Linked DNA regions of Homo sapiens. The protein of the gene in region 3 purifies or fractionates together with the protein of the main gene of each other region. This does not show direct contact. Each region holds a gene or a part of one and is shown on either strand. Other genes may lie near its edges.

Region 1 (3,653 bases), about 73 Mb from region 3:
GCAGTGGTGCGATCTTGGCTCACTACAACCTGTGCCTCCCGGGTTCAAGCAATTCTCCTGCCTCAGCCTCCAGAGTAGCTGGAATTATAGGCATGTGCTACCACACCCGGCTAATTTTTGTATTTTTAGTAGAAATGGGGTTTTGCCATGTTGGCCAGGCTGGTCTCAAACTTCTGGCCTCGAGTGATCCGTCCGCCTCAGCCTCCCATAGTGCTGGGATTACAGCTGTGAGCCATGGTGCCCGGCACTTGAGCAGAGCTCTTGACACAAACTGAGTGCTCACAAATCAGTCTAATACAGCAGGGATAATGAGAGGTCTAGCCTCACTGGCCTATGTGAACAGCCAAGCCTCATGAAAGCCTGGTGGTGAAGAGCCTGGACTCTAGAGCCAGGTTTGCCTGGGTTCAAATCTCAACTCTGCCACCTGTAGCTGTGTCTTTGGACAGGTCACTGAACCTCTCTGAGCCTTAGCTTCTTCATATGTAAAATGGGAATCATAGCCCCCATCTTCACCAGGCTACCGGGATTACCTGAGGTTATGAAGGGGACAGGACAAGGAGGCCCTGCGCCCGTGTGTGCTGTTAAGCTGCACGGCACTGCTGTTACATGTGACCCTGAGACCTGCTAACTCTGGGGGTGAGATGGGCCTGGCGCAGAGGGAGTCCTTAAAACGTGCCAATGATTCACTCGGGAGCCTGGCATGGTGCCGGGACACAAACCCTGCTTGGGAAGTGACGGTGGTGCATGCTGTCACCTTCATGGGCACCGCGGGCTGCTACAGACTGGGTGGTGGGGCCCAGAGAGGTGAGCAGGGACTTCCTGCATCCCAGAAGGTGCAGAGCCCCCCATGCCAGCAGGATATAGGGATGGTAGACCCAGAGCGTGTCGTTAAGCCAGTCCATGCCATTGTCCTGCTGTAGCAGTCGCTCGTAGGTGACACACAGGAAGCGGATGTCCTCCTCATCGATGCCACCGTTCCAGATGTCATACAGGATGGTCATCTCCTCAAACTCCGAGCGGGGCCGGAAGAGGGGCTGGGGTGGCGAGAGTTCGGGCGAGCCCGCAGGTGGCACCAGGTCCTCATGGCGCTTCTTAGGTGGCCGGCGCCACGGCCCCCGGCTCTTGGCCAACTCCATGTATTCCTCAGTGACCTCATCGCGCCCACGGGGGCCCGGAGGAATGGCCTCGGAGGGCCACTGGTTGTCTAGCTCCTTAAAGGGCAGCTTGGTGGGCTCTACAGGTGGGGGAGGTGGGGGTGGGGGTGGCTGGGGGGGAAGGGGTGGTGGAGGGGCTGGGATCCCCGCGTTCCGGAAGTCCAGGGTCACCGTCCGGGGGTCATGGGTGCTGGGGAAGACGGGGGTCTGTGGCTGGCCCGGCAGGAGCAGGAGTTCCCTTCCAAGGGCGGCCCCTGCTGGTGGTCGGACCAAGGGCCCATCCAAGGAGAGCATAGATGGTGGGGATCGCCGGGGCCGGCCCGGCTTCCTCTTCATTGGGGGAGGGCAAGAGGCCAGGGGGGCGGGCAGCAGGGGTGGCAGCGGGGTGGGCGCACGAGCCTGGGCCCGCAAGACGGCGGGCAATGCCAAGGGCAAGGGCAGGGGAAGGGGCAGAGGGAGGGGCAGGCCCGTCTCCAGGAGCACCGGGGAGGCCAGGGGCCCGGAGCGTTCATCGCGTCGGCCAGTGGGGAGTGGGCAGACGGGCAGGAGCAAGGGCCCGCTGGGCTCGGAGAAGGTGGGTGTGAAGCTGAAGTCCCGGCCAGGTGTCCGAGGGAGGCCCCCACTGCTCAAGCTAGGGGACGGGGCTGGGTAGGAGAAGGGGCTGCCGGGCACTTGCGGAGAGCTCAGGGACAGGCCACTGCTGCCCCCTGATAGCGGGGGCTCCCCGCCTGGTGTGGCTGGCACCGTCTCTGTGCTCTGCGACTTGGCCAGGCTGCCACAGAGGCCTGGAGTATGCGGGGGGTGGTCCTCGGCAAGGGGCTCCGGAGGGACAGATGGGTGTGAGGCATCTGTGGTCTCAGGCTCCGGCGGTGGGCTGGGTGGCCGGGGTGGTCGTGGGGGCGGCAATGGTGGTTGCAGCGGCAAGGGGAGCATCATAGGGGGCTCCGGCTCCACTTCCAGGTCATGTTCTGCAGAGAGGTGAGCGAACACGAGACATTTACTATTCAATCCAAACGTCTCTCAGTGCCTTATTTTGTGCTCCATACCTGGCAGGCTCACAGCCCTGAGTCTGAGCACGGGACCTGTCCTTCTCCAGCTAAACCCCTCAAGGACTCCTCAGCGCCCAACCCAGTGTCAGGCACACAGTATGTGCTTTATCAATGTTGCTAGGCTAAATCACAGATGCAGGAGACATGTATTCCAGCCTTTCATACTACGTCTTCAGAACAAAGTCCCTGTGGCCCAAGAAAATCTGCTCTATGACTGAATAAAATTCAACAAGTCTCTTTTCTGCAGGACTTGTCGGAGCCTTCAAGGATTTTTTTCCTAGCACTTATCTCCACTGTCACAGGATACACTTCTTAATTTTTTAATGAATTTACTTATTTTTTTATTTTTGAGACGGGTGGAATGCAGTGGCATGATCACGGTCACTGCAGCCTAGACCGCCAGGGCTCAAGGGATCCTCCTGCCTAAGGCTCCTGAGTAGGTGGGACTACAGGAATGTGCCACCACGCCCAGCTAATCTTTAAATGTTTTGTAGAGATGGGCTCTATGTTGCCTAGGCTGGTCTTGAACTCCTGGCCTCAAGTGATCCGCCAGCCTTGGCCTCCCAAAGTGCTGGAATTACAGATGTGAGCCACCATGCCCGACCACAGAATACATCTTTTTCATTTTCTATTTTTACATTATTTTATTTTTATTTTTTCGAGACAGTCTCACTCTGTCACCCAGGCTGGAGTGCAATGGCACAATCTCAGCTCACTGCAACCTCCTCCTCCCAGGTTCAAGCAATTCTCCTTCCTCAGCCTCCCAAGCCGCTGGGATTACAGGCACGTGCCACCACGCCCTGCTAATTTTTTGTACTTTTAGTAGAGATGGGGTTTCGTCATGCTGGCCTGGCTGGTCTCAAACTCCTGACCTCAGTTGATCTGCCTACCTCGGCTTCCCACAGTGCTGGGATTACAGGTGTGAGCCACCGCGCCCGGCACATTTCTTTTTCTTTCTTTTTTTTTTTTTTTAAGACAGTCTCACTCTATCGCCCAGGCTGGAGTGCAGTGTGGCACGATCTCGGCTCGCTGCAACCTCTGCCACCCGGGTTCAAGCAATTCTCCTGCCTCAGCCTCCCAAGTAGCTGGGATTACAGGAGCCTGCCACCTGTTTTTCATTTTCTAATTGATCTGTTGTCATCTGTTCCCCTGCTCCGTGGGAGCAGATATTTTTGTCTGTTTGGTCCACTGTTGCATTGCTACTGCCTAAAATAATAGCAGGGACACAATAGAGGCTTAGTATTGAGTCAATGTTCAAAGACTGTGGTTAATGGTGGAATAAACAAAACAAAATACATTACATTAAACAAAACACAGTCGTCCCTCAATACACACAGAGAATTGGTTCTAACACTCCCTGGTATACCTAAATCTGCACATACTCAAAGCTTGTAGTCTGCCTTGCAGAACCCACGTATAGGCGATCGCCCTCCATATACAGTGGGTTTCG
Region 2 (3,653 bases), on a different chromosome or scaffold from region 3:
GCAGCCAAGCAATTTCACTTGAAGAGCATTCTTAACCTCACGACATTTGGACTATCAATCCCTCCCCCCACCGTTTTTTACAGACTATTTGCAAAGTTATTAAAAGTTGCAAAACATTATTTATCTCCTATAGGACAATCTTGATCAGTTATGCATATTCCTTCTCTCTCCAGCAAAGCAAACGGATTTCACACACCAAAGTCAGAATTCAGTGATGGGTCTGATTACACAAATACCTAAGTTCCATGTGTTCTTGGGGAAAGGGCAGCCCCCTCCCTCAAAAAGCCCTGTCACCCTGTGAGGAGGCCTATAGAAAAGTAAGGAGCTGGATCAATGCTGATTTGGACGCCACCCTTAGTTACCAACGTCTTTAACAGCTAAACCTCTTATGTAGCTTTCAAAACAGTTTGCTGTCCGACAACAATGGACTCTGTTCTTTAATTATAGCAAGTGACCCCTCTGCCCTTTTATTTCACAGTAGATACACTACACTCTAGGCAGAATTCATATGGGACACTATATTTGAAAAAAAAAAAAAGCATAATGTCCACAAAACTCATTAATCAAAATATGTTCTTAAACTGCTCACACTCACTTAGAAAATGTGCCAGAATTCCCTGGTGAAGTATAAAAAGGACTCTACAAAAGAATAAAATAAAATGAATGATATCCTTTATGGACAGGTCCATTTGTAGACACCACCTTTATGACCAGGGCCATCTTAATGAAAGCAATATGATATTACAGAAATAATTCTCTTCCCTGAATAGGTATTGAGACACAACTATATGACCTCTTGTGCCTTTCACTTCTGTTTAAGTATCAGCCACTTTTAGGATTTTTGAGTTTTTGTATATATTTTTGAATTTTCCAGAAATCAAATAAACCCATCAACTTTACATATAAACTGTTTATTTATAAAGCCCAGCTGAATGCCTCCCTATCTGATAAGTCAAAACTGTAAGATGGCTAGGAGGATACATAAAGAAGAGCTTCAATACAAGGCTATTATGCTTCACAAGAAAGGAGGGGAAGGTGGAGAGGCAGGTTTTAACAACCAAAAGCCAACCCATCAAATCTACTTATTCAGACATGTCACTGGTGGCTTAACCACAAAATGGGCTACAGAAATATAGCTCAAACATCTTAGAATTATGGCATGTTTTGATTTTGTTCACGTATTAAGGGAGTGGCGACTTTTACAACATACTTGTGGTTTCCACATAAAGGAGTAGAACACTCATTGATTTAATTAGGTTTCATAAGGTCCAATTTATCATGTTTTACATGACTTTGTGTAGTGAAGAAACAGAATAAACAGACCAAAAATAGACATTTAAGCATGCATGCTATGAAAATTAACCGGTGACAGCAAGTCTTATGAATCTCCTGTGAACCTTCCAACCAGAAAAAAAAAAAAAAAAAAAAAAAAATGCACACACACATACACTCCCCCCTTTGGTTTTCACATGTGGCCCCTCACGAGCCACATCTGATTGCTGAAAATTAATAATCTTCACTCTCCAGGCACTTACTCTTCACAAACTCAGATAATCAAGCCAGGCTGAAGGAAATTAAAACACTGTATAAAATGTCAAAAAACCTCAGTGTTGAAATATTTTTTCAGGTGAAGCTTCTGGTCCTACTAAATCTTTACTTTCTAAATAGGTATTCTCACATCAGTAGGAAGCATTTTCTAAATTGATGCCTAATTTGATGCAACCACTAGTTAGTGGAATTAGAGTTACTTTCCTGGGTGGCATTCATGCAAGGGAGTGCCATTTCTGTGTGCCAAGGATGAAAGCATTCTTAAGAGAAGTCATTCTCAGGGTGAAGTGGGGGTGGGGAGGAAAGCCTTAAGGAATAATGTTTGAGATCCTGAGCCAACGCCCAACTTGACAGAGAATGGCCAACACTACAGGATCCAAGCCCCTGGATCCAAGCCTTTGAGGGGCCCCTGTGCCAACTCCAGTGGCTAAGATTGGTGGCACAGCTTCCTCTGGTATAGGATCAGAAGTGAATCTAAATTGCAGTGTGCTTTCTTCCCTCCCCCACCCCAGATCCACCATGACTTGTTTGCTCTTCATTTATGTAATTCATATTTATCACATTTATACTGCTCTAACTGAAGATGAGTTGCATGTATATGAATAATTTAATTCTTCCATTCTTCACCCAGTTTCCTCTGTGACTGGAAAGTGAAAAGAACACACAAAAACTGGAGAAACGACACCACGCTCTAATCTCAGTTGCCATGACAGCAGCCTTTTAGATACTGAAATGTTCCGATTGCCAGCTAAACAAAATTGTTGAATGTGAACATTTGGCTGGAAGATTAAAAGGCTAAGGGGAATGCAAAAGGGCAGTACCTCCCACATTCCAAGCAGCCAGTGAATCCAATCAAATGGCTCTGACTCCTTAACCACAGCCATTGTGAGCACTGGATTAGGGCAATTCATCTAGATAGTTAAAGCAGATTAGAACTGCAATTTGAAGACTATTGGCAACAAAAGTAAATGCCCTACTGTACTAAGTAATAAGAAGATTTCAGAACACCTTTTAGCGGAAATAATGTGAAACTACACATTTAAATATAAGACTCAAAACCCGGAATTTTCAAAAATTCATTTATATTCATTAATGTACCTGACCAAGAGGATATGAATTTATAAGCGTTTGGAGGCATTTTGCAAATTTGGCATTATCTACACCTTAATGTGCCTCTATCAACTTTTAAAAATCAAAACTTTACTCCTATACTCCAACTTAAATCCTGAACACAAAAACAAGAATATAAAAGTTTAAGTAGCAGTGAACCATTTTACACAGAAATAATTCTCCAAAGACATATTATCACCACTTACAATCCCAATCGCCAACTATAGCAAAAAAAAATCAAAATTATTTAATAAGGATGTTCCCCAACAACCATGCCACAACCCACATGACAGAAAGCTTGCTTCTGCAAGGCACAACCTGTAGAATTAATATGAAGATTAATTTCATAGAAATATCACACACACACCCCTAACTCCTTCCCAACCTGCCTAGTGGACAGAACACCTTCTGTTCCCAAACATTAGTCAATGTGGTCTATGACTAAGCAGCAAAACATGGTGTGGGTGTCGGGGCAGGCAGTTCTTCCAAGGCAGTGTCTAACTATAGACTTGTACAAAGAAGGGGAGAAGGGTCCAAATGGTCTAAATCAACCATCCACACCGTTTAAATGCAGCACATAATTCTATATTCCAATTCACTCAACCGTCTACATCCCCTTTGGCTACATTTTCACATTTCACGAGTATCAGTCCAGCAAGTCTGTTTTATTCTTCTTAGCAGCCGTCCAGCTCCCCAGTCAGGTATCCAAGTGATAACACTCTTAAATCTCTAGCTAAGAACTGGGTGAGGGAACAGGGGTAGAGTGCTAACAGCCACCAAAACCATCGAGTTTTTCTGCAGTTATGAAACCAATGACCCAACACATCAAGCTTGGGGTTTCATTCAGGACCAATAACAAGAACTCATTCAAGGATATCCTTTCACAGTACTATTTTGGAGACAGTAAGAAAAAATAAAAGGGATGAGGTCTGTAGAATGTAAATTCGAATCCTCGACATTCCTCTCCAGGGAGGGAACTTGAACCTTGCACCTAA
Region 3 (3,653 bases):
TGCAAAACATTGTACCATTCAAGTTGTTATTAAATAAAACAAAAGAGAAAATCTCCAAGAAAGAATACTAATCTGTGATTTCCCAAAATGGGGGAAGGAGAAATGTCTTATTTTTCCCAGCTATTTGCATTATGTTGAAAAGAAAGTGAACATGCGGAACACTTTAAACTTTTATTAATCTACATTCTTAATGTTTTGATATGAAATCATCACTTACCAGTCAAGACAGCTTTAAAGTGTTCAATTAACATGTATCTTTCACATATACATATATACATGTATATATACGTATATATATATACATGTATATATATATATACGTATATATATATATATATATATATATTTTTTTTTTGAGATAAGGTCTCACTCTTGTCACCCAGGATGGAGTGCAGTGGTGCAATCAATCACAGCTCACTATAACCTTTGCTTCCTGGGCTCAAGCGATCCTCCCACGTCAGCCTGCCGAGTAGCTGGGACTACAGGTGTGCACCACCCCACTTGGTTAATTTTTGTATTTTTTGTAGAGATGGGATTTCACCATGTTGTCCAGGCTTGAACCCCTGGGTTTAAGCGATGCTCCCGCCTCAGCCTCACAAAGTGCTGGAATTAAACGCATAAGCTACTGCACCTGGCAATATATTTTAATTAAAGCACTAAAGATACCAACATCAAATAATTTTTTTTTTTGAGACAGTCTTGCTCTGTCACCCAGGCTGGAGTGCAGTGGCACAACCTTGGCTCACTGCAACCTCCGCTTCCCAGGTTCAAGTGATTCTCCTGTCTCAGCCTCCCAAGTAGCTGGCATTACAGGCACCTACCACCACGCCCAGCTAATTTTTATATTTTCAGTAGAGATGGGGTTTCTCCATGTTGGTCAGGCTGGTCTTAACTCCTGACCTCAGATCGATCTTCCAGCCTCGGCCTCCCAAAGTGGTGGGATTACAGGCATGAGCCACTGTGCCCAGCCAAAATTTGTAATTGTTTAAAAAATATAGGCCTATATTGGAGCTCATATGGACCCTCAAATAACTAGTCAAAATGGGCTATACCCTGTCCTCAGCTAATTTTCTTGACAATATTCTCAAAATTCAGTACCCTAGGTTAACCCTTAATTGCCAAAGATCTGGCACGGATCCATATCAACTTGATTAAGCTTTGCTGCCAATTATAAACTAAAAGAATATCTGGCCAGGCACGGTGGCTCACACCTGTAATCCTAGCACCTTGGGAGGCCAAGGCAGGCGAATCACCTGAGGTCAGGTGTTCAAGACCAGCCTGGCCAACATGGCGAAACCCCGTCTCTACTGAAAATACGAAAATCAACCAGGTATGGTGGTGGGCGCCTATAATCCCAGCTACTCGGGAGGCTGGGGCAGGAGAATTGCTTGAACCCGGGAGGCAGAGGTTGCAGTGAGCTGAGATCGTGCCACTGCATTCCAGCCTGGGTGACAGAGCAAGACTCCATCTCAAAAAAAGAAAAAAAAAAAAAAAGAACTTCTAAAAGTTTTGCTAGTGATTAATATATGGTAGACTGTTCTCTGGCTCTGATTTATGCAATCAAAATTAAGAGATGAGGCCAGGTGTGATAGCTCACGCCTGTAATCCCAGCACTTTGGGAGGCCGAGGCAGGCAGATTGCTTGAGCCTGGGAGTTCAAGACCAGCCTGGGCTGTAACATGATAAAACCCTGTCAATACAAAAAATACAAAAGTTAGCTGGGCACGGTGGTGTATACCTGTAGTCCCAGATACTCAGGAGACTGAGGTGAAAGGATCACTTCAGCCTGGGAGTGGGAGGCTGCAGTGAGCTGAGATGGCGCCACTGCACTCCAACCTGGGTGACAGAGCAAGACCATGTCTCAAAAATAAATAAATAAATAAATAAATAAGTGAATAACTTTGAATTTTAAAAATTTTGTTTCACTCACCGTCTGATCATTACATAAATACAAAGAACAAGCTATATACCTTAAGTTTCATACTGAGTAAAAATTTTATTGAAAAGGCAAAACACATAAATTATACTAATTTTAAGTCAAAAAATTATGCTTTATTACTTTTTCGTTTTTAAGACAGAGTCTTGCTCTGTTTCCCAGGCTGCACTGAAGTGGCACAATGTTGGCTCACTGCAACCTCCGCCTCCCGGGTTCAAGCAATTCTCGTGCCTCAGCCTCCACAGTAGTTGAGATTGCAGGCGTGTGCCACCACACCTGGCTAATTTTTTTATTTTTTGTATTTTTAGTAGAGATGGGGTTTCACCATGTTTCCCAGGCTGGTCTCAAACTCCTGAGTTCAGGCATTCCACCCGACTCGGCCTCCCAAAGTGCTAGGATTACAGGCGTGAGCCACTGTGGCCAGCCTCTGCTTTATTTTTAAAAACTAGCTGTTAAGGCACTGAAATACACAGAATATACAAAATTAACTTTAGGACTGAGAGCAAGTAATTTCTGCCAAAATTTCTTCATAAATATAAACAAAAGCCAATATTACCTGTGTATAAGAGGTACTTAACTATATTCTGAAGTAAAAGTGAAAAGAAATTAAGAAAAATCAAAACATGGTTAATAAAACCAGCAAAGGGCCAGGTGTGGTGCACAAGGCCAAGGTGGGTGGATCACTTGAGGTCAGGAGTTCGAGACCAGCCTGGCCAACATGGCAAAACAGCCTCTCTACTAAAAATACAAAAATTAGCCAGGTATGGTGGCAAGCACCTATAATCCCAGCTACTCGGGAGGCTGAGGCAGGAGAATCACTTGAACCTGGTAGGCAGAGATTACAGTGAGCCGAGATCGCACCACCGCGCTCCAGCCTGGGCGACAGAACGAGACTCTGTCTCCAAAAATAAAAAATTAAATAAAATAAACAAATTAAATAAATAAATAAAAATAATATATAATAAAATAAAATTAATAAAAAATAAATTTAAAAATAAATAAAATAAAATAAAACCAGCAAATTACAGAAATGACAAAAGCTAACAGACTATCAGAAAATGTGAAAAGGCTTTAAAAATATGTAACAGTTGGCTGGGCACGGTGGCTCAAGCCTGTAATTCTAGCACTTTGGGAGACCGAGGTGGGCATACTGCCTGAGCTCTGGAGTTTGAGACCAGCCTGGGCAACATGGTGAAACCCCATCTCTACTAAAATACAAAAAAAAGAAAGAAATTAGCCGGGCACAGCGGCGTGCGCCTGTAGTCCCAGCTACTAGGGAGGCTGAGGCAGAAGAATTGCTTGAACCCAGGAGGCAAAGGTTGCAGTGAGCTGAGATCGTGCCACTGCGCTCCAGCCTGGCAACAGAGTGAGAGTCCGTCTCAAAAATAAATACATAACGGTTTCACAAGGTGACTAAGTTACATCTTCAGAAAAATGGGTTATGCCTACATTAACCTGTCTGTAACCTAAAATACTGAGGCCTTAACCTAATATAGAGTTTGTTAAAATGAAATTCACTTTTTGAATACTGAAAATGAGAAAAATAAAAATTGTTTTAAAAAATTAATTTCACTGCACCCTGTCAGAAGAGAATTTAACCAATGGTCTGGAACTGAAATGTACCTATCTGAAGCCATTACTATTAGAAGTTATTAGAAATCATTTGGTGGGGGCAGTAAGCAACCTACTAAATGAATGCCGGCTGGTTCATGTAACAG

What was found.
Region 1: the proteins of KANSL2 (region 3) and SETD1B purify together in Homo sapiens (affinity purification with mass spectrometry, with the first as the bait; one large-scale study listed by BioGRID). This does not show direct contact.
Region 2: the proteins of KANSL2 (region 3) and ZNF608 purify together in Homo sapiens (affinity purification with mass spectrometry, with the first as the bait; one large-scale study listed by BioGRID). This does not show direct contact.

The regions. Positions count from the first base shown.
Region 1 is NC_000012.12:121,820,959-121,824,611, reverse strand, and holds part of SETD1B (histone-lysine N-methyltransferase SETD1B), read right to left. Parts: intron 2,123-3,653; coding exon 863-2,122; intron 1-862. UniProt on the Homo sapiens protein: Histone methyltransferase that catalyzes methyl group transfer from S-adenosyl-L-methionine to the epsilon-amino group of 'Lys-4' of histone H3 (H3K4) via a non-processive mechanism.
Region 2 is NC_000005.10:124,739,987-124,743,639, forward strand, and holds part of ZNF608 (zinc finger protein 608), read right to left. Parts: intron 1,407-3,653; exon of another isoform or gene 1-1,406. UniProt on the Homo sapiens protein: Transcription factor, which represses ZNF609 transcription.
Region 3 is NC_000012.12:48,672,089-48,675,741, forward strand, and holds part of KANSL2 (KAT8 regulatory NSL complex subunit 2), read right to left. Parts: intron 1-3,653. UniProt on the Homo sapiens protein: Non-catalytic component of the NSL histone acetyltransferase complex, a multiprotein complex that mediates histone H4 acetylation at 'Lys-5'- and 'Lys-8' (H4K5ac and H4K8ac) at transcription start sites and promotes transcription initiation.